Linked DNA regions of Homo sapiens: regions 1, 2, 3, 4 and 5 are each linked to region 6. Evidence: fine-mapped expression QTL. A gene starts in region 6. Each other region holds a variant in brackets. All regions are shown on one strand. Distances are from middle to middle. Region 1 overlaps PLEKHH2 (pleckstrin homology, MyTH4 and FERM domain containing H2). Region 2 overlaps THADA (THADA armadillo repeat containing). Region 3 overlaps PLEKHH2 (pleckstrin homology, MyTH4 and FERM domain containing H2). Region 4 overlaps THADA (THADA armadillo repeat containing). Region 5 overlaps PLEKHH2 (pleckstrin homology, MyTH4 and FERM domain containing H2). Region 6 holds the start of PLEKHH2 (pleckstrin homology, MyTH4 and FERM domain containing H2).

Region 1 (4,090 bases), 92 kb before region 6:
ATAGGTTTTTGGGGAATAGGTGGTATGTGGTTACATGAGTAAGTTCTTTAGTGATTTGTGAGATTTTGGTGCACCCATCACCCAAGCAGTATATACTGAAACTGATTTGCCTCACCCCCTTCCCACCCTTTCCCTCAGTCCCCAAAGTCTATTGTGTCATTCTTATGCCTTTGCATCCTCACAGTTTAGCTCCCATTTATGAGTGAGACATGTTCCTGTTTTGGATAATCTAGAAGAGTTGGGTCCTAATTTACTAGGCTGCAATAAGTCTACCAGGGCACTATCACGTTGCTTAAATGTGCTAAAGATTGGTGACCTAGGTAGGGGGCATGACTATATATGAGAAAGAGCTGGGGAAAGATCTAGAACTTCTCTAGAGAGGAGAAGCCAAAGTAGAAAGAGATATAAAGATAAAGAGGAACTTGAAGGCATTCCTAAAATCAACATTTATTAAATTCCTGTGTTGGACACAGCAAATAAAATGTGGTCTCTCTTAGCGTATAAAGCATAGGATAGAATCTAGTCTCTCAGTGGGGGAACCTTAGCCATAAAAATTCATTTCAGGCCAGGCACAGTGGCTCATGCCTGTAATGCCAGCACTTTGGGAGGCTGAGGTGGGTGGATTACTTGAGCTCAGGAGTTCGAGACCAACCTGTGCAACATGAAGAAACCCCATCTCTGCCAATGATACAAAAATTAGTCGGGCATGGTGGTGCATGCCTGTGGTCCCAGCTACTCAGGAGGCTGAGGCAGGAGGATTGCTTGAGCCCAGGAGGCAGAGGTTGCAGTGAGCGGAGATCATGCCACTGCACTCCAGCCTGGGTGACAGAGTGAGACTCCGTCTCAAAAACAAAACAAAAACTTAATTTCAATGCAAAACTACAAATGCTATAAATCTTTTGGCTTCCCTGGGCCACACTGGAAGAAGAATTGTCTTGGGCCACACATAAAATATATAAACACTAATGATAGCTGATGAGCTTAAAAACAAAAAACTCACAAAGAAATTTTGTAATGTTTTAAGAAAGTTTATGAATTTGTGTTGGGCCACATTCAAAGCCATCTGGGGCCACAGGCCACCTGTGGGTTGCAGGTTGGCCAAGCTTGCTATAAAAGAATTAAGTGACAAAACGCATTAGGACATAATTTTAACATTGATGAAGCACCTTTTATGAGCCAGATGCTGAGCTGCAGAGGGCTGGCTGGGGGATCTCCTAAGGCTAGGTGGGGTTTCATTATGTTGGTGAGGACTGCCAACGAAGGGGGCATTCCAAGCAGAGGAGCAGTGGAAGCAAAGGCAGAGGGAGGTGACCTGACACAGACTAATGAGGAATGATGGTGTCCCTGCAGCCAAAGAGCCACAGACAGAATTCTCTCCCATGATGAGCAAAGGCAATGAAAAGGTGGGTATATTTCAGGGAAACAGGAACCCATTAAGTGAAAACTCCATTAGGCTAAGCGGGTTGAGGTCCATTTCATTAACCATAAAGCTTTATTTATATGTTTATGAACTTACAAGGCTCCCCGTCTATATTTAGCAATTTGCAAACCAGTTGTTCAAATTCAGATCCAACGTTTACATTGTTGCTTCCAGCTGCAACAGTCAGATGATAAAGCCAAGTGTCCTTAAAACCAGAACATATTAATTAAATGTTAAGACACAGTTTTGATTAAAGAAAAAAAAACAACTTGCATAAACAGTAGAAAACTTTGAGATGGAAATGAACCACTTG[C/T]TTTAATTTTTAAATAATAATGAAAAGCCATTTATTCAAACAATTCTGAGGCATGCTCACTTGAACTGTGTTTATATTACCTTTTCCCATTATTTACACTTTTCTTATTCAGATGCATTTTAGAAAAGCATGACAAAATTAAGACGAGTAACACATGTTAAGAGACTAAATACAACCAGCTGATATTCTTTTACAAAATAAATAAATTCTATTAAATTAAAAATCTGGCTCCCAGAGTGATACATACAGAATATTTTGGAAATCCAGAAAATTTAAAGAAAACATAATACCCGTCTTATCCCATTCACCAAAGATTCCTGGTCTTTTTTTCTCTATGATAATATATATGTAGATTAAATTTTTACATAGTTGAATTATTCTGAAAGTAGAGGATAATTTCTGAATTTTAGTAATATAGTACAAGCACTCCCTTGTTGCTAGAAATTCTTTATAAACAAGTTTTAATGGCTGCAGGATATTCTACTACACATATGGACACACCATATTTATTTAATCAATTTCTTATTGCTGAACATTATGATGGTTACTAACTTCTCACTGATAAAAAATACTGTGACAGCTATCATCTGTTAACTGAAAAGGAAATGTTATATTTTCCATCTTTAAAATACTTCAAAAATAAAATTATTTTAAAAAGAGTATTGTAGGCCGGGCACGGTGGCTCATGCCTGTAATCCCAGCACTTTGAGAGGCCAAGCCGGGTGGATCATCTGAGGTCAGGGGTTTGAGACCAGCCTGGCCAACATGGTGAAACGCCGTCTCTACTAAAAATACAAAAATTAGCTGGGCATGGTGGTGCATGCCTGTAGTCCCAGCTGTTCGGGAGGCTGAGGCAGAAGAATCTCTTGAACCCAGGAGGCGGAGGTTGCAGTGAGCCGAGATCACGCCACTGCACTCCAGCCTGGGCAACAGAGTGAAACTCTGTTTTAAAAAAAAAAAAAAAAAGAGTATTGTGTTGAACAAACTATACATAAATTTTTGGCTACATTTACTAACATTTTCTTTTTCTTTCTTTTTTTTTTTTTTTTTTGAGACAGAGTCTTGCTCTGTCACCCAGGCTGGAGTGCAATGGCGCGATCTCGATTCACTGCAACCTCTGCCTCCAGGTTCAAGTGATTCTCCTGCCTCAGCCTCCCAAGTAGCTGGGATTACAGGAACCTGTCACCACGTCCAGCTACTTTTTGTATTTTTAGTAGAGATGGAGTTTCACCACATTGGCCAGGCTGGTCTCGAACTCCTGACCTCAGGTGATCCACCTGCCTCGGCCTCCCAAAGTGCTGGGATTACAGGCGTGAGACACAGTGCCTGGCCAACATTTTCTTAGTATATATTTTTTGAAATAGAATTATGAGTCATTACTAGGGCGAGAAAACTTTTAGGAACTCTTGAAACATATTTTCAAAGTACTTTCCAAAGCATTTACACTAATTTCTATTCTCACCAGTGGTATATAGGAGTGCTTCCCTCCTCATAGCTTCACTAGCATAATTTTTTAAATCTTTGATAATCTCAGAGACAATAAAAGCTTTATCATTTTTAAATGTGCGCATCTTTGATTACAGATGAGCGTAAGCATTCATTAGCCATTAAATTCCTCAGTAAGTTGTTCATCAGGCCCTCTTTCCATTTTTCTACTAGAAACATAGTCCTTTTCAAATCATATGAGAGGTAGCAGAGGCAAGTGTTCAGGAACACAGGCTCTGTGGTTAGAGATAGGGGTCTAATATCAACTCTGCCTCTTGCCAGATGTGTGACCACAGGAAAGTGCTTCAGTCTTTCCATCTATAAATGGGAATAAGGTCACCTCCCACAGAGGGTAATTGGAAGGATGAAGAAGAGATATACTTAGCACTTGGCCTGATACATGTGCTCAAAAACAATGATCAATAGTAACAATAATAATCTATAAAGAGTTGTTTATATGTTAAGGATACAGTAGCCATCCATGAAATATTTTGTTTTCTGTATTATCTTTTTAGTCATATTTATGATAATATTTGACATAAATAATTATTTCAATTTTGTATAGTCAAATCTATCAACCATTTGCACTCTGATTTCTTACACTGCCTTTTTGTTTTTGTTCTTTTTTTTTTTGAGACGGAGTCTCGCTCTGTCGCCAGGCTGGAGTGCAGTGGTGCGATCTCAGCTCACTGCAACCTCTACCTCCTGGGTTCAAGCGATTCCCCTGCCTCAGCCTCCCAAGTAGCTGGGATTACAGGCACACGCCACCTCGCCTGGCTAATTTTTGTATTTTAGTAGAGACAGAGTTTCACCATGTTGGCCAAGATGGTCTCGATCTTCCTGACCTTGTGATCCACCCGCCTCGGCCTCCC
Region 2 (4,090 bases), 250 kb after region 6:
TATACATGTTTTTCTTTGTCTATTTGGGGAAAAAAAGGAAAACTACATCTATTATATTAAAATGAAGGCTCTCTGTTTTGGACAAAGGCATATGTTTGAAAAAAAAAACATAAGTTAAATCTTACTTGAATTTCTCTTGTTACTGTCAATAGCATGCATATTTTGTGCCTTTTCTACATCAAGTGAATGGGATTATTAATTGAGGTATGAATTTGTACTTGCAAATGTTCACCTTTTTGGCCAATTGTTGCCTTCCTGCTTCATCCTCCACTTTTTTTTTCCTTATTAATTAGTGGGTTGTGTGTTATAGTCTTGAACTGGTACCACTCTGAAGCAGTTGTTGAGGTATGTATGGGCATCAGATATCAGATGTTTTACTGATGGGCCCATGTTCATATGGAATAGGTATTTAGAATCTTGGTCATTTTCCTATTTGGGATGCCTTTTTAATCTTTATAAAGTAAAATTTCTGGTGAGGGGGACATTTTTCATTAGCTTCCTGAGAATCATATTTCTAAAAAGGTCTAAGATTATTTGTTTGGAGTTTTTTTTTTTTAATATCAAATGGATTTAAGAGGTTTTTTAAAAGTTGTGATTTCGAAGAGTTTACAAGTGCCAGCAAATTCTATCACCTTTGTTAATCTTCAAAGAGATCAGTATAATTAACATCTTACATGTGCTGTTTGACACTTTTTTCTTATTAACTTCTTAAGCCTTTAAAAAAATCTTTAGACAGATGAGTTTTACATGTAAATTTTAGTCCATTTATAGCAGATAGACTTTATGCTTGCCCCTTCTTCTTTTTTTTTTTTTTTTTTTTTTTTGAGACGGAGTCTCGCTCTGTTGCCCAGGCTGGAGTGCAGTGGCTTGATCTCCGCTCACGGCAAGCTCCGCCTTCCGGGTTCACGCCATTCTCCTGCCTCAGACTTCCGAGTAACTGGGACTGCAGGCATCCGCCACCACACCCGGCTAATTTTTTTGTATTTTTAGTAGAGACGGGGTTTCACCATGTTAGCCAGGATGGTCTCGATCTCCTGACCTCGTGATCCGCCTGCCTCGGCCTCCCAAAGTGCTGGGATTACAGGCATGAGCCACCGCACCCAGCTTGCCCTTTCTTCTTAGATTACAGGATGTATAGTCATTTTTATATCTAACTTGTTTCTGAAATGCAGTTTCAGTTTCCTGCTTTATAACTGATTTTTTCAAATATGTGAGACATTTACTTGTCCAATTACCAAATTGTTTTTTGTTTTTTTGTGGGTTTTTTTGTTTTTGTTTTTTGTGTTTTTTGAGACAGAGTCTCACTTTGTCGCCCGGGCTAGAGAGCAGTAGTGAGATGTTGGCTCACTGCAAACTCTGCCTCCCAGGTTCAAGCGATTCTCCTGCCTCAACCTCCCAAATAGCAGGGACTACAGGCGTGCACCACCACACCTGGCTAATTTTTGTATTTTTAGTAGAGATGGTGTTTCACCATGTTAGCCCGGCTTATCTAGAACTCCTGACCTCAGGTGATCTGCATGTCTTCGGCCTCCCAAAGTGCTGGAATTACAGGCGTGAGCCACTGCACCTGGCCTCCAAATTGTTTTTTAAGTTTGTTTATTTAGTTATTTATTTTAATTTAATTTTTTGTAGAGATAGAGTCACACTATGTTGCCTAGGCTGGTCTTGAACTCTTGGGCTGAAGCAATTCTCCCGCCTCAGCCTCCCAAAGTGCTGGGATTACAGGCATGTTCCACTGCATCCAGCCCCAAATTTTTCTTATACTGAAAAGAAGTATGCATTGATCAGATTGAGAGAAAATTGAAATAGTCATCAGGTCTGATTTTTAGATGTGCATATAGAGAACAGAGATACAAGGCAGTAATTTATTAAAATTCATGATTGAGCGTACAAATATGTGTGTTCAGTATGTACATTTAGGAAGAACATGCTAGAAATTTGAGTTGATGTTCTTCAAAGGAAACTCTTAGAGTAAATTAGAAATGTAATTACAATCCACACCCACCAACTCAAAAGGGTACTGAGTTGGGTAGGTTTCTGAAGAAAATGAATACCAGTGTACCCTAGCCTGTAATCCCCAAGCAGTGGTAAGCTCTTACTCACACCCCTCGCCCCTCCCCAAGAGCTCAACAGCCTCATTAGAGAAGGAGGACTATATTGTTCAGTAAATGTGTCTTGAAGATCATCACTTCTTCTATTCTGGAAAAATGTGTGATTTACTTTGTTACTCTCCCCTTGTCCTAGCTTTTCCTCCTTTGTTGTTTCTCTAAATTTTTACTTCTCCCTCCCGAATGAGAGCATGAGTAGAGGTGCATAATTTTCAGTTGTCTGTCCATTTCAGAAGTTAACTCTTACTATCACTGCACTGATCATAGTAAGTTTGGTCATTTTAAAATTCATATAGAGAAGCTGGGGTAGGGGGGTAGCCTGTGTGTGTATGTTAGACCAGGAGTGATGGTAGAAGCCTAAAAACATCTAAAATTTCAGTTAATAAAAGAAACAAAATACCACCAAAAAGTCTGCCCAAGAATTTATGTTCAAGTGAATATGTTTTGGTATTTTT[G/T]TATAAATTTAAGAATTGACAACGTTTTTCACTTTTTTTAATGATTGACCTTTCACAGATGCAATAGGTTGCTGTGGAGTGTTAGTAAGCACTCATTTCCTGAGGTCAGGCACAGTTTAGAGAACCTTGTCACTCAAAGTGTGGTTCTGGACCACAGAATCAGCATTGCTTAGAACTGGTTAGAAATGCAGAATCTTGGGCCACCTCAACCCTCTTGAATTAGAATCTGCATTTTCACAAGATCCCCAGTTAAACTCCTATGTTCATTATGTTTAAGTACTAATTCAGATGAACGTTTTTCAGGATGCTGTACTGGGGCTCCCAGCTAGTAGCTAGATGGTTGGACCAGCTGAACCTAACATTCGGTGATTGGTTATGCCTTTGTTTCCATGACCAACAGGGAGATGGGTGTGATGCTAATTATCTGGTATGTTAGCTTAAACTGCTGATGAGAACCCTTAATACTGTAACTCATATATAGCTTTGTGTTCTAGCTGTCACGTAATTCTTTATTTTACCAAGAAGATGGTGAACTCATGGACGGCAGGGATTGTGCCTTACTTATGCACTGTCTCCAAAACACCTATTACTAAGCATATAGTGAGCCTAGGTTGATTGGTTTGATTCGCTTTTCCAACAACCAATTTTGATACTGTCAATCATCTCTGTGTGGTTAGATGCATCTTTTATTAATATTATTTCTTCTTTTTCAAAATGTACATTTAGAGCCATACATGCTCATTTAATGCCATTTTAGTCCCATCCCATAAGTGTTCATACATGGTGCTTTCTTTGTTGTCCACTTTTAAATATCTGAACATTTTCATAATTTATTCTTTAACCCATTGATTATTTTTTGAAATTAAAACATTGATATTGAGATTTTATTGTTAAATTTTCTTAAAATGTTATTTTGTGGTCAGAGAACATAATTTATAATTATATTCCTTCTTTGAGAATTTTTTGAGGCCATTTTTGTGGTATAGTAATGTGGTAGTTTGTAAATTGTGTGCTTGGAAGACTGTGTTGTGTTACTTAAATCTTCTAAACTCTTAACTGATTTTTAAAACCTGCTTAATCTGTCACTTTATAAGCAGTGTGTCAAAAGCTCCTATATGTGAATTTGTCTTATTTCTTCTTTAATTCTATACATTTTAGTGCAGCAGTTAGAAGCAGTATCCATGAAGTGGCTAGAATCTTTATGATTGTTATGCTTTTCAGGAGAATTGTTCCTTTTATCGTTAAGTATTTTCCTCTTTTATAACTGTTAATGCCTTTTGGCTTAAATTCTAATTTTGTCTGGTATTGACATGGTGACACCAACTCTCTTTTGCTTGGTATTTCTTGAATATCTTTTTTATCTTTTATGTTCATTCTTTGTCTCTCCAAGTTTTAGTTGTCTCTCATAAAGAACATATATCTGATTTTGTTTCAGTATGCAATCTGATAGTCACTGTCTCATTTTAAATAAACTTCTTACTTAAGAATAGTTTTATATATACTGAAAAGTTACTAAGATAGTACAGA
Region 3 (4,090 bases), 100 kb before region 6:
GAAAAACTCATTAGAATAAATAAATGTAAAAGTTGGATAGAAATCTTATTTGTCCTTGTTTGTTATACATAAATTTTACTGCTTATTCAAGCAGATTGATAACACCTGTCAAATATGTTTGTATTCAAGTGCCCTGTAGGCAGATCCTTGGTCTCGGGGCTCCTCAGTGACTGCAACTGAAATTACCTGACCTTGGTCACAGATGACCTTGATCACAGAGGCCCCACAATGTATTATGAACTGTAGAATATTTTCCTATTGCTTCCAAGTTGGGTTTGTTTATTTGTTTGTTTCTTTTACTGTGTTTGCTTTAGTCCAAGAGTTTAAGCAACCTGACACAAACCTCTTGGTGGACAAAATGACCCTGGATAAGCCTTGGCTGAGTGACCTGGGTCCCAATGTAAGAAAGCCATTCTGGAAGTTGAACTTTAAATGTGTTTTTCAAAGGAGTAACAATTCTGAAGTAATTCAAATACATACAATTAGAAAAGGAGGGAAGACCATGGGGGAAATTTTTCACATAAAAGAATTCAATGTGCAGAGAAATAGTAAAAGGGAAAACTAAGGAAACAAAATAGTTGCTTTTATTGAATGAACACCCACTAATGCTAAGTCATTCATACTTGAAATGCAAATGCACTTTTCACTTAAAAATATTCTCTGTCAGTTTTTCAAGTATTTATTGCAATCTTCCCTAAGAGATTTAACATAACAAAGGAAATATTTTCCTAGCTCCACATCAATGATAACCAAAGGCTTCCTGTACCAATATTTGTTTCATACATTCTTCTGAAAATGTACCTGGCAGATCGTTAAATACTTATGATTTATCGTAGACTTTCAGAGGCCACATAAACAGTTCAGCTGGCTAGTATTCTGCACACCTGGAATCTGCATTCCTCTTTAGGTGAAGCCTGAGGAGCCACAGGAAAGGATGATGGGGAAGGAAGAGCCCAACGCAGAGTGCCAAGAGCTGCCAGCCCTGGGCAGGGAGAAGCACCACAGGTTAGATACCACGTGCCAGTCAGAGATCCACATCTGAGTGAGTGCAATGGGCTGATGACAGTCTCTCTTAACCCAAAAACGTTTTGCTTCTTTCACATATGCATGATCTGTTTACAGCATTTATCATAGGTTAAAAACAAAAAACTCTACATTGGGTCAGATCTATGATCCATCTAGTTGTGTGTATGGTTATCTACAACTGAGGAACCAAGGCACAAGCAGACAAGGTGCTCCTTTTTGACGTTACACTCAAAGATTAGGAACATTGTTTCTTTTTTTTCACTTACGTATTTACTCATTCCTTGAAATACAAGTAATAGTTTTGAGAAACGCAGATTGCAGAACAGTAGAAAACACATGCCCTAAATCAAAACCAATCTACCTACACACACGTATGTATCTACATACCTAAATAAGGGACAAGTATAAAAATATTAACAGAGGTTATCTTTAGGTAGCAGCAATATATGTGATTTTTATTTTTCCTTCGCTCTGTTCTGTATTCTCCTTTCTATATTTTTTCAAGGAAGTATAAAACATGTTACAGCAGAATTCTCTTCTGAAGAACATGGTGGTTAATGCTCAACCACTAAACAAGGTACAAAAAGTCTTCAAACAACAAAAAAATTTTTTTAATTTCTTTATCCTATAAAACACTGCATTTGTTAAAAAATGTTAAGCATTAGACAAACTCATTAGAGTAAATAAATGTAAAAGTAGGATAGAGATCTCATTTGCCCTTGTTTGTTATATATAATTTTTCAGTCATTTTTAAAACGTTATATTAAAAAAGTTGGATAGAGATCTTATTTGCCCTTGTTTCCTATGTATAATTTTCAGCCATTTTTAAAACGTTATATTAAAAAAGAGGGAGAAATAGGCATTGTCCCTGCCCTTAAGGAACCTACAGTCTAGTAGGAGACAGTTATATATTTAAACAGTAAATTATAATACAACATGGTAATACCACGTATTAACTTTTTAAAGCATAACCAATGGAAGGAATGACTAACTTCTTGTGGAGTCAAGGAAGGCATCACAGGGAATATGTTGCTTAGGCTGGACTATAAAGTCTACGGAAGGGAAGGAAGAGGAGGGATCCAGGTAACAGGAATACCATCAGGTGCATGGTGGAGAATATTGCAAAGGTGGAGTGTGTTTGAAGGATGGGGCG[A/C]ATTTATTCATTCACTGTCTGCTGGAGGCAGGAAGTGGAGAAAGAGCGGGCCAGTGGAGCCAGATGACAAAGTGTTCTTGATGCAGATGAAGCTTAAGCTTCAGATTCCCTCTTGGGCACAGGTCCTGGGAAAGGCTTATTAACTGTGTTTACATGGTCATATGATTTCTAAAATGTGCAAAAGTAATCCATTTTCAAGTCTTTGTCTTAAAGAGCATTTCCCAAACTGTATAAGCTTCGGTCTCACAAAACCTAGATCCAACCCCGACAGTCCTATATGCTAAGGTAAGAAATTTCTGATTTATCCTGTGGCTAACAGGCAGTCAATACACAAAGATAAAAACAGGTGTTCATTGAAGAGTAAACACAGATGACTACCAAACACCTGAAAAATATATTCAACTGCACTAATAAAGAAACGCATCCTGAGTCAATAGTGAAATATTTTTTTTTGCCTGGTAAGAATTTAAAATATACTGAATGTTGTTGAAGATATAGGAAAATTCTAAAAATGAATTCAAAGGAATTCGCTGGACCTGTCCACAAGATTTAGGTTCCTGGTGGGCGCGGTGGCTCACACCTGTAATCCCAGTACTTTGGGAGGCCAGAGCGGGCGGATCACCTGAGATCAGGAGTTCGAGGCCAGCCTGACCAACATGGTGAAACCCCATCTCTGCTAAAAATGCAAAATTAGCCGGGAGTGTTGGCACATGCCTGTAATCTCAGCTACTTGGGAGGCTGAGGCAGGAGAATTGCTTGAACCCGGGAGGCGGAGGTTCCAGTGAGCCGACATTGTGCCATTGCACTCCAGCCTGGGCAACAAGAGCGAAACTCCATCTCATTTAGGTTCAAAGATGTCTACTGCAGAGGTATTTATTATAGGAAAAAATATAGAAATGTATCGTACTTAATGTTAACATGACCATTAATGTTTTGAAGAATGTCTAAGGATATAGGGGAAACGATTATTTTCTATAGTTTAAAAAAGTAGTATGCACACTGTAACTCCAGCAATATAAAAAACTGTGAGTGTACACACACCAACATACACACATTTATATATAAACATATAAATAAACCAAAAAGGTAGACATCAAAATATTAATACCTATTTTTCCTTCTGCACTTTTTGTATTCTCCAAATGTCTATGCTGAATGTGTATCATTCTTACAATCAGAAAAAAAAACACTTTAAATTGCATGTATATGTATCAATATTAATATCTACCTGCAATGGTCCTGGTTGATTCTGTGGCTGTCTTCGTCTTGTCTGTTTAATAAGCTGACAGCAAATTTCATTCTGCAGCTCAGGATGTGTCAGGCAGATTTGCAAAGCACTCTGGGCTAAAGATATGTGGTAATCAATTGCAGGAGAGTCAACTGCAGCATTTATAAAAAGCTGGCAGGTCTGAATTAAACAAAAAAAGATATATTCAAGGTGAGGAGTGATTAGATTTATTCTGCATGAATTATATCGAATATCTTTTCAGCAGTAGTTTTTGTTTAAAATGATGGAAAAGGATATATTATGATAACACTAATCAAAAGAAATCTGGAATCGCCACAATAATAGCAGACAAAGCAGATTTCAGAGCAAGGAATTCTGCCAGAGATAAAGAGGGTCATTTTATAATGATAAAGGGGTCAGTTCATCTAGAAGACATAACAATCCTAAACATCTACATACTTAATAACAGAGCTTCAGAATACATGTGAATCTCATCCAGCATATTTTTCATTTTAGTCACTGCATTTTTCATCTCTAAAAATTCAATTTGGGTCTTTTTAATATCTTCTCTTACTCTTCTTAAAATGCTCATGCTTTCCTTTACCTTCCTGAACATGTGAAGTGTGGTGGCCAATCTCCAAAGTGGTCCTCCGTGATCTCCACATCCTGACATTCAGATCCAT
Region 4 (4,090 bases), 360 kb after region 6:
TATGATTCTCTTCTCACCTATTAGTAGAATTATATTTTTGTGTACCTCTTCCATGCCCAGCCCTCAAGAATCAGACATGGTCACTGCCTCCAAGGAGCTTTCAGTATAGTTGTGGAGAAAGGATTTATAGAATAAAGGAAGGAATTGTTTTTTAGATAGTGAGATCCAAATTTTAAATGTTGTAGGAGTTCAGACCAATAAAGGGTCTCCTGTCCCTGTATCTCTCTGGGAGACAACGTTTTCTTCAATATGGTTTTAACTTTTTTCTTCTTAGTGACTTCAGGCATTTTTCTTACAGCCAGAGAGACATTGAGAAGGGACCTTCTGTGAGTGTGATTTAATCATGAGACCCGAAGGAATAAGAGCAAAGGGTGACAAACCTTAGTCAAGCTTCTCCAGTAAAGTTAATACCATTTTGCAGCACATTTTCTGGGTGACTTTAACTACTCAAACCCTAGCTTATAACAGGTAAAATGTGTGTGGAATAACCTGGAATTCTTTTGTGAAATTTGGTCCTGTGCCTACAAGAACATGAGAAATAGGTGCAGTGACTCATGCCTATAATCCTAGCACTTTGGGAGGACGAGGCAGGAAGATCACTTGACCCCAGGAGTTCGAGACCAGCTTGGGCAACACAGCAAGATCTTTTGTCTACAAATAATAAAAAAATTAGCCAGATGTGGTGGTGTACACCTGTAGTTCCAGCTACTCAGGAGGCTAAGGCAGGAGAATTCCTTGAACCTGGGAGGTCGAGCCTGCAGTGTGAGCCATTGTGCCACTGCACTCCAGCCTGAGCAACATAGTGAGACCCCATCTCAATGAAAAAGGTACTGAATAGGTAGAAGCAAAGGACATAAAAGTGCATGAGAGGCCAGGCGTGGTGGCTCATGCCTGTAATCCCAGCACTTTGGGAGGCTGAGGAGGGTGGGTCTACCTGAGGTCAGGAGTTTGAGCCTGACCAACATGGTGAAAACCTGTCCCTACTAAAAATACAAAATTAGCCGGGTGTGGTGGTGCATACCTATAATCCCAGCTACCCGGGAGGCTCAGGCAGGAGAATCACTTGAACCTGGGAGGTGGAGGTTGCGGTGAGCCAAGATTGCCCCATTGCACTCCAGCCTGGGCAACAAGAGTGAAACTTCATCTCAAAAAAAAAAAAAAAAAAGAAGTACATGAGAAAAGTCAAGGGCACAGCAAAGTCATTTAAGGAAAAAGAAAAATTGAAATGGACTAAAGAGGGAAGGATCTGAAGGATATAAATGATGACCATATTAAAGAGGAAAATATTAAGAAAGGAAGGTATTGAACCCTTACAGAACAACTAGAAAGAATGGAGACTGAAAGGCTGAGTAAAATTTAAATCAGATCTGTAATGAAAAGAAGAGAACGAAACCCCAAATGGAGCCACTGTTATTATTGGTATGACTAAAGCATCAGTGACTCTGAAACCAGGTTCTCCATGTACAGATGAGGTAGAGGATAGACAAAGGGGAGTTCTTAGGGAAGGGTAGTTTCTCCATTGAAAGGATGGGGATGCTG[C/T]GTGGTGGTCTTCCATGGCCCTCCAGTGATAACCCTCCACAAGCCCAGGCCCACCCCACCTGGACTAGAGGTACCCCTTTCTGGGAGGCCATGCTCACCTCTCACTTTCGTCATGAATTCTGTGTCAGTTACAGCAGTCCACTCTCATCTTTCCTGTTGGGAATCACAGCCACACAATTTTGTTCTTCACAACTCATTGCTTTGTGTTTTTGACTTTATATTCCTTTTGATTGCTCAGGACAAGATACTATCTTTTATTATTCATTGTCCGCAGCAGCACCTAGCACAGGCTGACTAGACAGATCAGTGTCCAGGAGTAATGGCAGTCAGATAGTGGACCCCCTACATACATGGGACACAAGCTGCTGCCTTTATCATGGGTCTCTTTTTTTTGTTGTTGTTGTTGTTTTGTTTTTTGTTTTTTTGGTCGGGAGCGAGGATGGAGTCTCACTCTGTCGCCAGGCTAGAGTGCAGTGGCACGATCTCAGTTCACTGCAACCTCTGCCTCTCAGGTTCAAGCGATTCTCCCATCTCAGCCTCCCAAGTAGCTGGGAATACAGGCGCCCGTCACCACGCCCAGCTAATTTTTGTATTTTTAGTAGAGACGGGGTTTCACCATATGGGTCAGGATGGTCTCAATCTCCTGACCTCGTGATCCACTCTCCTCGTCCTCCCAAAGTGCTGGGATTACAGGCATGAGCCACCACACCTAGCCTCTCTTTTTTTATTCTTGCCCCCAGAGCATAATCTTGATTGATGCTTCACTTTCAGAATTTATAGGCTCAGACACTTGAATCAACACTGGGCTAGTTTCTCCAAAGCAGTCTTATGCATAAAGTTTTCTTCTAGAGAATCAGGACTCAACTAGGAGAGCAGGGCAGAGGGTCTTTGTCACCTGGGCAGCATCTTCTGGAGGCCTTGCCTAGCGCTGGTTGCCTCCGGAAAGCCTACATCCTCACCCCCAAAAAAGGCATTTCCAAATCTGCTCCCTTAGGAGTCTGTCTTTGCCAATGTTTGTCTAACACTCTTTCTATCTTAACAATACCCAGAAAAAAAGAGATAGCTGTAACTCATTCAATGCTCCTCTCTTCCACCAGGGATTTGAAGCAGTATTTGCACCTGCCTGTTAATTGCATTCTAGGTAATTCAGATTCCTTTTGGTCTTCTTAGAGTTGCAGGATACACTTGCTCTCTGGAAGTGTGTCCTTACCCTTCTGCAGAGTGAGGAGCAAGCTGTTAGAGATGCAGCCACGGAAACCGTGACAACTGCCATGTCACAAGAAAATACCTGCCAGTCAACAGGTACCTCGTTCTTATCCTTTTGCATTGTCTTATCGCTGCAGGATAGAGGTTGGAACACTTTTCTATAATGAGCCAGATAGTATCTTAGGCATTGTTGGTCATTTGGTCTGTGTCTCAACTCTGCCATCTTAGTGGGAAAGCCACAAACAGTAGGTAAACAAATGGGCATGACTGTGTTCCAATAAAACTTTGCTTACAAAAATAGGCAGCTTCTCAGATTTGATCTACTAGCCGTAGTTTGCTGACCCCTGCTGTAGGACATCCTAAAGAAAAATTATTTTTAAAGGTAGAAATTTAATAAACTGTTAGGTCTTTTGCTGGTTACGTTGTCATCGGTTTTAAATAATGCCAAGTCTCTATTATCTGTGTGGTTCCATAACTCAGGAATCACAAAACCATCATTTTGTTCCTGAGTTTTTATATGTGACAGAAAGCGAGAAATGATTATGTGTACGTTAAGTTTCTCTACTTTGTGTCCTAGCTGCTCATTTGATAATAACATGAACCCAGGAGGGAGGAGGGGAGTGGAAAGAAGAGCACCCTAGCTGGGTAGTCCTGAGGTCGCAGCCGTCGTATAAGCGGTTACAGCCCCAGGCCCGGGGTCATGTGCATGTAATGGCAAATGCTACGAAAGCTAAAAGGAACTCAGGCTGTGGGTAGAAAATGGGCTGCTGGATGAAAGAGATGGGGGCAGATGGAGTAGAAATAAGGTCACACCTCTGGACAAGTGGCCATCTGGGAGGGTGCCTGCTTTAGCAGACTCGGATTCTCTGTGCTTGGGGCTGGGTGCCAGGAAAGGTCTCTGGATCAGCGGTCCCAATGAGAAGCAAGAACACTGTTTTGAGGCAAGGGATCAAAGCTGAGCAAAGAAGTTCACCTTAATAGACAGCAGAATGAGAGAAAAGGAGGCCAGATAAGCCTTTGTAATTGATGCAAGGCCCCTCATCAGTTACTGTGGCTGGGGCTGCTTGCCAAGGCAGGACACAGGATTGTGTTCCCTGGAAGCCTCCCCAGATGTGTGAACCTTCCAGGATCTGAATCCTCAGTCAAAATGGTCTGTGTACACTTCTCTGCCTATGTGGAAGAAGCTAGTTTTGGAATAATCTCTCAGTGATACCGCACCAGGGCAGGTTTCGCCTAGATCAGCTTTTCCTCTCAGCAGGATAGCATTTGGAACAGAGCTGCAAGTGATATGCAAGCAGGCTCCCCTCAGCCCCCAACCTGCCAGACTTGCCCAATAGCTAAAATT
Region 5 (4,090 bases), 110 kb before region 6:
AGGAAGCTGAATACTGTGGGATGGAAATTGCGTCACTGTGGACCAGTACCACTACGCAAATATACTGCTTCCAAATTCAGCAGGGCTCTCAGCACCACTGGGCGATCCTTTTGCTTGCCCTCAACTGGATCCATATTCATTCTTCAGAGCATTTATTTCCTACTGTTGCCCTTCCCATCCTCTTGTAAACTTACTGGGGGGAAAGCCTGCAATCTCTCTCTGTTCACCCTTCCTTCACTCCTCAGTCCACCATGGTCTACTGGTTATACTCTACTAAAACTGCAATTGTTCTCTTCCTGCCTCAGTGGCGTCCAACTTCCAGTCATCTGCTCAGAAGTCACCACTCTGCAAAGTCTTCCTCTATGTCCCTACAACCTCTTGTACGTATGCGTCATACTCATGGTAACGACAAATATCTACAAAGCATTTACTATGTGGCAGGCTCTGAACCAAGTGCTTTACAATTGCCAACATTTAATCCTTCAGACAACCCTAGAGGTGGGAGTCATTTTGACCTCCGTTTCACATACAGGGTACCTGAGGCACAGAGATGTTAAGTGACTTGCTCAGGGCCACATAGTAAGTGGTAGAGCCAGGATTCTAACCCAGGCAGCCTGTCTCCAGCCCATGTTCTTCACTCCTGTGCTACATTCTTCCTGTTACAGCACTGATTGCATTGCTAAGACTTCATGTCTGCCTCTCCCTATAAACTGGAAGATTCTAAAGGGCAAGGAAACTCTATTCACCTTGGAATTCCCAAGGCTTCAAACAAGTCTTGGCACTGGTAGATGGCATGAATGGACAAATAAATGGTACGTGAGAATTGCTAAGTACAGGAATTATTTGCCAAAAATCCTGAAGAATTCCCTTTCATAGTCTTAGGCAAGTGACTTAACTCTCTAAAGCTTCAGTTACCTCATCTGTGAGATGGAAATAATAATAGTACCTCAAAGGGTTGTAAGGATTATGTAAGAATGCATACAAAGAGTTAAGAATAAGGCCTGATGTTAGGTAAATGTTCAACAAATGAGGGTTAGTAGTAGTAGGAGTACCAGTAGTAGTATTCCCCAGAGGTCTCTGGAATCATGAGAGTCTCTCTCTCTCTTTTTTTTTTTTTGAGACAGAGTCTCGCTCTGTCACCCAGACTGGAGTGCAGTGGCATGCAGTGGCACGATTTGGCTCACTGCAACCTCTGCCTCCTGGGTTCATGCGATTCTCCTGCCCCAGCCTCCCATGTAGCCGGGACTACAGGCGCATGCCACCATGCCCAGCTAATTTTTGTATTTTTAGTAGAGACGGGGTTTCACCATGTTGGCCAGGCTGGTCTTGAACTCCTCACCTCAGGTGATCCGCCTGCCTAGGATCCCAAAGTGCTGGGATTACAGGCGTGAGCCACGGTGCCTGGTCCACATGAGAGTCTCTTGATCCTGGAATTTTTTTTGGTGTGAACATAGCTAGGAGAAATGGGATAAACTCCATTTCTTGGCTTAAACTTCTGGCTATGGCCAGTTTTCTTTTGTTAAAAACATGCCTTGGCTCTTACAACTTCAAAAACACAGTGAGAAATCAAATTAAATAAGAAGCTTAACTATGAATAGAATTTAAATGTTAGTTGCCAACGGTTGTCTATGAGAACAAGTTCAAAACCTGTTAATTAGATCTTTCATACCTGAATCTAAATAATTAAAATTCCATCACTTGTTAAGTATCCATTTAAAATTCCATGATAAAGAGAATTGATATTTTAGCTTTGTTTGTTACCCTGCTGCTTGGCAGATGAAGAATCAGGTCCTTGGCTGTGTGACAGGTCACAGCAAGGTTCCCTCCTAACTGTATCACTAGAAATTAGGGCTCATTGTCTAAGCTACTTATAAACACCGGCAAAGCACGGCCATGTTTAGAAACATTACTTTCTCATAGCTGTGGCTATCCAGCCATTTCAGAGTTCTGTTAAAAATCAAGCCTTTCAGTTGAGTTAATTTTTTTCCTGCTGTCAAAGACATTGTCATGAGGTTTTACTTTTAAACAAGGTAATCATCATCTGTTATTCACAATTCTCTCTTTTAAAAAAAAATTTTTGAAGAGATTTATTCTGAGCCAAATATGTGTGACCATGGCCTGTGACACAGCCCTCAGGAGGTCCTGAGAACATGTACCCAAGGTGGTCGGGGAGCTGCTTGGTTTTACGCATTTTACGGAGGCTGAGACTTCAATCAAATAACTTAAGAAATCTATTGGTTTGGTCTAGGAAGGCAGAACAACTTGAAGTGAAGACTCCACAACCTCTTATGGCAACCCAGACATTCCTTTCTATTGATTCCAGGTCTTTGGATAAACTCAACCAACTGTCAACCAAAAAATTTTTATTCACGACTCTCTTTGTCCTTCCTTGTGATGTTTGTTAGACTTGAAGCATTATTTTTACCTGTCTTTCATATCCAAATTTTATCCAAATTTCACTTCAGTTCCAATC[A/G]TAGCCATCATACTCAGAGTTGGTATGTATTAAGCATTCATAAGGTTTAGATTATTAGGAATAGTCTTGGCTGGGCGCAGTGGCTCATGCCTGTAATCCCAGCACTTTGGGAGGCCGAGGCGGGCAGATCACCTGAGGTCAGGAGTTTGATACCAGCCTGGCCAACATGGTGAAAACCAGTCTCTACTAAAAATACAAAAATTAGCTGGGCATGGTGGCAGGCGCCTGTAATCCCAGCTATCTGGGAGGCTGAAGCAGGAAAATCGCTTGAACCTGGGAGGCAAAGGTTGCAGTAAGCTGAGATCGTGCCATTGCACTCCAGCCTGGGCAGCAAGGGTGAAGTTCTGTCTCAAAAAAAAAAAAAGAATGCCTGAACCTCTTCTCCATAAATGTCTTTGGCAGGCCAGGTCCAGGAGCTGGCTCCTTCCACAAAGGCTGAGGCCAAGAGGCAGGGGCAGCAATGAGGACCGTTAGGTCAGTGCTTCTCAAAACCCAGCACGTGTAAGAATTATCTGGAGAGCTGTCAAAACAGGGACTCCTGGGCTCCACCCCCGGAAATTCTGACTCAGTGGGTCTGAAGTGGGGCCTAATGATTTGCATTTCTAACATGTTCCACGTGGTCCTGAGGCTGCTAGTGTTGGGCCCACGTTGGGAACTACTGCTCCAGATTAAACAGAACTACAATAATAATCTAGAAGGTCCAAATATTCTAGCCTGCTGTCCTTCCCAGTCACCAAAGGGCCACTGATACCTTGATAAAGTTTGCCCTCAAGGGAAACAGGTCCCTCCAGGGATGAAGCCTATTAGATTTCCAATATCTATGCAATATTGCTTATCTCTAGGAATGCATGATTTTAAAATCTTAGACACCAAAGATTAATAGTCACTTTCTTATTACTTGAACCTCTGGCAAATCATCACAGCTCATGAGCCCCTGAATAAAGAAGCTCCAGTGTTCACAACCACCATTTATTCAGATCAACAGAGTCTGTTCAAATACTGGGTGGCCCTTTAAGTGGCCAACTGGATGAGAGAAGAGCCCAAAATATGAATGTGCCATATTTATTTAACTGTTCTCCCTAGTAATAAACATGTGAGTGTCTGTCCCAAGTTTTTAACAAAAACATTGACAAAGAATATGACAAAAACATGACAAGGAAGATACTGTGACATACTGGAATACTCTGCCCACTTATCTGCATATTTCTGTGGGATAGACTATTAGAACAAGAAATTTTAAAGTGGATCAAAATTACATTCTTTATGTTGTACAGTGCCTTCAATTCTTACATTCCAATTTTAAGTCTGAACATCTTCCAAAAAGAGACCTCTGAGTACCACTCCAATAATTCCACCAGGCTCTGGGTCTGACATTTTATAGATTCCTTAATTTACAGGGTATAAGACTCAAATAAAACCAGCAAAATACCATTATTTTGTTATAATTAATGTGAGCTGGTCAGTTAACAGTGTTTATTAAGTACTACCTTTTGCTAATACATGAAAGAAATGAAAATATTTAAAAAGAAAGAAAGGAAATCTGGTTCCTGACTACATGCCAAAGTACATTACCATTTTATCTGTAGAGAAGGTGTGTGCTCCGGAGTCTCCGGCATT
Region 6 (4,090 bases):
AGTCCATTTACATGAAATGTCCATAAGAGGCAAATCCAAAGGACAGAAAGTAGGTTAGTGGTTGCCAAGGGCTGTGAGGAGAAGGTAGCAGATACTGACTACAATGGATAGGGGGTTTCTTTTTGGGGTGATGAAAATATTCTAGAATTAGATATTGGTGATGGCTATACAACCTTGTGAATATACCAAAACCCAGTGAACTGTATACTTTAAAAGGAAAAATCTTATAGTTTGTGACTTATATTAAGATCTCAATAAAAAAGATCACATATTTACAAATGACTAAAGAAAAAGTCGCAGTTTAAATGGATGTATACTAGGACTGCATTTACAAATTTAATCAACCATTATTTGTGGTTATCCCTGCCAAGAATTTCACAATTAGCTCAAAAAATTGAGAGGTAACTGTTAACCCCAAATATGAAAAGTATCATACATATATCTTACCTAGCGCACTTTGCTATGATGACATAATAAATTAATTCAAAGTCAAACATACCTATTTCTTTAGTTATGCTAATTATATATTTTATAGTGAAGTAGCAAAGCCTTAAGAATATTATTAAATTGGCATTTAACATCTACATTCCCTATTAATGGGTCATAATAAATCAGAACTGCAAATTGGTTGGATAATGGTCTGCACTGAGATCCAGACACCTGATTCCCTCATTTCATTCTGTAATTTCAGTTAGTTAACAAGTACAAAGCAACTGTTGTATTAGTGCACCATCTTGGGTAGTTAAAAATTCTAATTTTAAACAATATCCGCCATCCTTTTCATTACCACTAATGTTATAGAACTATATAACATTGGGAATATATATATAACTATATAACATAGCCGACTGCTAAATAAAGAAAATACCACATATAGATTCTGAATTTGAAAGGAATCTATCATGTCTAGATTCTGCATTTGAAAATAATCTATCTTCACTTCAGGGGACAGGAAAAAGTCTTGGAGTTCCAAATACCCCCAGTGATTTTTGGAAGTATTTACTGACATAAGATAAACTGTTTACAATTGTGGAGTGAATGCTCTTTTCTCTGAATCTCTGACTTCCTGTTTCTCTTCCAAATCCCAAAAAGGAAAGAAAAAGAAATGAAAGAATTATTCTACTTAGGCTTACCCTGATGAAGCGCAGCGTTAGTCTCTATGATATTCTTTAGTTTTTGCCTCTTAAGGGACAGCTTAACTGGGCTGGGTAATCGTGTGTGTGAGTGTGTGTGTGTGTGTGTGTGTGTGTGTGTGTGTGTGTGTTAAAAGATCTTTCTCGACGAGACTGAGGCATGCCTTGTTTAAGGAACCTTCTGACCACCACCTAGCCACCTAGCCCCACTTGGGCAACGCCTGCCCTTCGGTGACCCTGCCCAGAACAGCCGAGCTCCTCACTACATACTCCTCTGGGACACACCGCTGTGCGGGCCAGGCTTCCAAGACTGGCATTTTCACAAAGAAAGCAGTGACCCTCAGGTAGCCCACCACCAGAGCTTTTCCAATGTAAGTGGTTCGACTTCTATTTCCACAGCGTTACGCACAACAATATCGACGGGTAAAAAGTGTTGTCCTTTAAAAAGTGCCCCACTAACTTCGGGGACAGTGGTTTCCGGGTAGGTCACCTTAGGGTGCTTTGACGTGCCAGCAACTCGAGGTGTACAAAATGCTTCTTTAAAGTTTTGAGTTTAAAGTTTCGCCCCGGAGATCCTGGTGGATCTCCCGAAGCCTAAGGCGAGCGCGGCATCCCTGACCGCGCGGGTCCCTCGGCTCGGGGACCCTGGGCTGCCCCGCTGCGCCCCCGGGACCGCTCGCGCCGCGCCAGAAGCCCGGGCCCAGTGTTTCCAAACAGAACGTCACGGGAGCCCACGGGCGCGAGGGACCGCCGGCCACCGCCCCCTGCCCACCTCTCCCGGCGACATCCAGACTTGGGGGCCGACTCTGGGCTGTGGCGGGAGGTGCAGCGGCGGATCCCGAGTCAGCCCGCTCCGTCCCTCTCGTCCCCGCCTTCCCGCTCCTCCCGGCGCCCCAAACCTCGGCCCCGCGAGCCCCCCTGGACGGGGCGCCCTCAAGGGGGCGGGGATCCCAGGGTGGCAGGAACTCTGGAGTGGCCCCTCGTCCCCGGGCTTTCTCACCTGTCTATCTCAGCAGCGGGTCCCCGGCCGCAGCGCCCGATGTCCCGGCCGCGACTGGCCCCCGGGATCCCCGGACTCTCAGCCCGCGCCCGCCTCAAGCCGAGCTCGGAGAGGGCGGGGAAGGGCACCGCCTCCTCCAGGGACTGGCAGCCGGTGTAGCCAATGGGAGACCACAGCCGACCACCGGGCGTCACCGGGGGTGTGGCTATAACTTTGGCTCCTCCCAGTCCCTGCCCCAGGAGGGAGCTCTGTCCTGGAGTGGTACCCCTAACGTCCCAACTGCGAGACTCCAGAGCTTGCTGCAGCGGCCGGTCACCTTCATTCCACTCCGTCTGCCTGGACTGTTGCAGCACCCTCCCTTGGTCTCCCAGTCTGAAGTCTCTCCTCTTGCCAATCCACCCTTCATCTTCCTGCCAGGTTAATTTCCTTAAGAGCAGTTTTGATGAACAGTGTGCCAAAGACTTTCATTGGCTTCCGTTTGCTTAAATTATCAAGAACAGATTCCCTAGTCTAGTGTTCAAGGTCTCCATCCCGTCTTTTCAGGTTTATTTCTCACAGCTGCCCTTCACACACCTGAGACTACTGCTGTGCACCTCGCCACCCGAAGGAAGTGGCACTAGGAGCGTTTACATGCTATTTCCTGTCTCCACTTCAAAAAGCTCAGAATAATCTTCTCACCGGGCGCAGTGGCTCACGCCTGTAATCCCAGTACTTTGGGGGACCGAGGCAGGTGGATCACTTGAGGCCAGGAGTTCGAGACGAGCCTGGGCAACATGGTGAAACCCTGTCTCTACCAAAAAAAAAAAAAAAATATATATATATATATATATATATACACACAAAAAAAAAAAATTAGCTGGGCTTGGTGGCGCTCACTTGTAGTCCCAGCTACTCAGGAGGCTAAGGCTGGAGGATTGCTTAAACACAGGAGATGGAGGCTGCAGTGAGCCGCGATCATGCCACTGCACTGGATCCTGGGCGACTGGGCGAGATCCTGTCTCAAATCATCATCATTATCATCATCATCATCATCATCATCTTCTCCATGTAACTATGTCTGTCGCTCCACCTGGCAGAAATGTCGTCTCTGGGCCGGGCGCAGTGGCTCATGCCTGTAATTCCAGCACTTTGGGAGGCCGAGGAGGGCAGATCACGAGGTCAAGAGATCGAGACCATCCTGGCCAACATGGTGAAACCTGGTCTGTACTAAAAATACAAAAATTAGCTGGGCGTGGTGGTGCACGACTGTAGTCCCAGCTACTCGGGAGGCTGAGGCAGGAGAATCGCTTGAACCTGGGAAGCGGAGGTTGCAGTGAGCCAAGATAGCACCACTGCACTCTAGCCTGCCTACAGAGCAAGACTCCATCTGAGACAAAAAAAAAAAAAAAGGTCTTCTCTGGTTTCTGCTCCCTGAACATCTAGATTTTTGCCTCTCTTGGGGCTTAGCTCCCTCTGCCTTATGCACAGCTCCTCACATCTCTTTTAGACTGTGAGCACTTTGAAAACAAGGATTTGTGGTTTTTTTTTTTTTTTTGCATTCTCCTCAGCACAGAGCATATTGCATAAGTAAATTAGTGATAATTTAAATCCAGGTGAATTTTACATCCCAACTTAGGGTCTGGAGAGGTCAATCTCAGGGTAAAATAAAGAGAATTCTGAATGTTATGGATAATCGTTCCCCAGGTCACAAAGCTAGGTCAGACAGATTATTCTCTTTGGTTCACAGTTGGCCAATAGAGAGTATCAGAAAAACTTTTTCTACTACAATCTTTTTTTTTTTAACTTTATCTCATCTTATATAAAACACACACACACACACACACACACACACACACACACACACACACACACAGAGGATGGGCACAGTGGCTCATGCCTGTAATCCCAGCATTTTGGGAGACCAAGGCGGGCAGATGACTTGAGGTCAGGAGTTTGAGACCATCCTGGCCAACATATC

The links. PIP is the estimated chance that this variant, and not a neighbour inherited with it, causes the effect. A credible set is the group of variants that fine-mapping cannot tell apart.
Region 1: its variant is the best candidate, but not a certain one, in a credible set for the expression of PLEKHH2 in caudate (GTEx, PIP 0.88).
Region 2: its variant is the best candidate, but not a certain one, in a credible set for the expression of PLEKHH2 in spinal cord (GTEx, PIP 0.84).
Region 3: its variant is the best candidate, but not a certain one, in a credible set for the expression of PLEKHH2 in spinal cord (GTEx, PIP 0.62).
Region 4: its variant is the best candidate, but not a certain one, in a credible set for the expression of PLEKHH2 in putamen (GTEx, PIP 0.72).
Region 5: its variant is the best candidate, but not a certain one, in a credible set for the expression of PLEKHH2 in Th1/17 cells (Schmiedel 2018, PIP 0.79).

The regions. Positions count from the first base shown.
Region 1 is chr2:43,727,172-43,731,261 of GRCh38, reverse strand. PLEKHH2 (pleckstrin homology, MyTH4 and FERM domain containing H2) reads right to left here. Exons shown (of 30, transcript NM_172069.4): 18 at 1,517-1,625. Among named protein-coding and RNA genes, the nearest start is that of DYNC2LI1, 45 kb to the left of the region's middle. The variant C/T (reference allele first, on the strand shown) is at 1,734.
Region 2 is chr2:43,382,341-43,386,430 of GRCh38, reverse strand. The region is part of intron 29 of THADA (THADA armadillo repeat containing); the gene reads left to right. Among named protein-coding and RNA genes, the nearest start is that of LINC01126, 160 kb to the right of the region's middle. The variant G/T (reference allele first, on the strand shown) is at 2,564.
Region 3 is chr2:43,737,838-43,741,927 of GRCh38, reverse strand. It overlaps PLEKHH2 (pleckstrin homology, MyTH4 and FERM domain containing H2), which reads right to left. Exons shown (of 30, transcript NM_172069.4): 20 at 3,408-3,587; 21 at 885-982. Among named protein-coding and RNA genes, the nearest start is that of DYNC2LI1, 34 kb to the left of the region's middle. The variant A/C (reference allele first, on the strand shown) is at 2,180.
Region 4 is chr2:43,278,516-43,282,605 of GRCh38, reverse strand. It overlaps THADA (THADA armadillo repeat containing), which reads left to right. Exons shown (of 38, transcript NM_022065.5): 36 at 2,710-2,841. Among named protein-coding and RNA genes, the nearest start is that of LINC01126, 53 kb to the right of the region's middle. The variant C/T (reference allele first, on the strand shown) is at 1,540.
Region 5 is chr2:43,747,508-43,751,597 of GRCh38, reverse strand. All of the region lies in intron 24 of PLEKHH2 (pleckstrin homology, MyTH4 and FERM domain containing H2), which reads right to left. Among named protein-coding and RNA genes, the nearest start is that of DYNC2LI1, 24 kb to the left of the region's middle. The variant A/G (reference allele first, on the strand shown) is at 2,474.
Region 6 is chr2:43,635,423-43,639,512 of GRCh38, reverse strand. PLEKHH2 (pleckstrin homology, MyTH4 and FERM domain containing H2) reads right to left here and starts at 2,253. Exons shown (of 30, transcript NM_172069.4): 1 at 2,134-2,253. RefSeq lists a silencer at 2,020-2,349.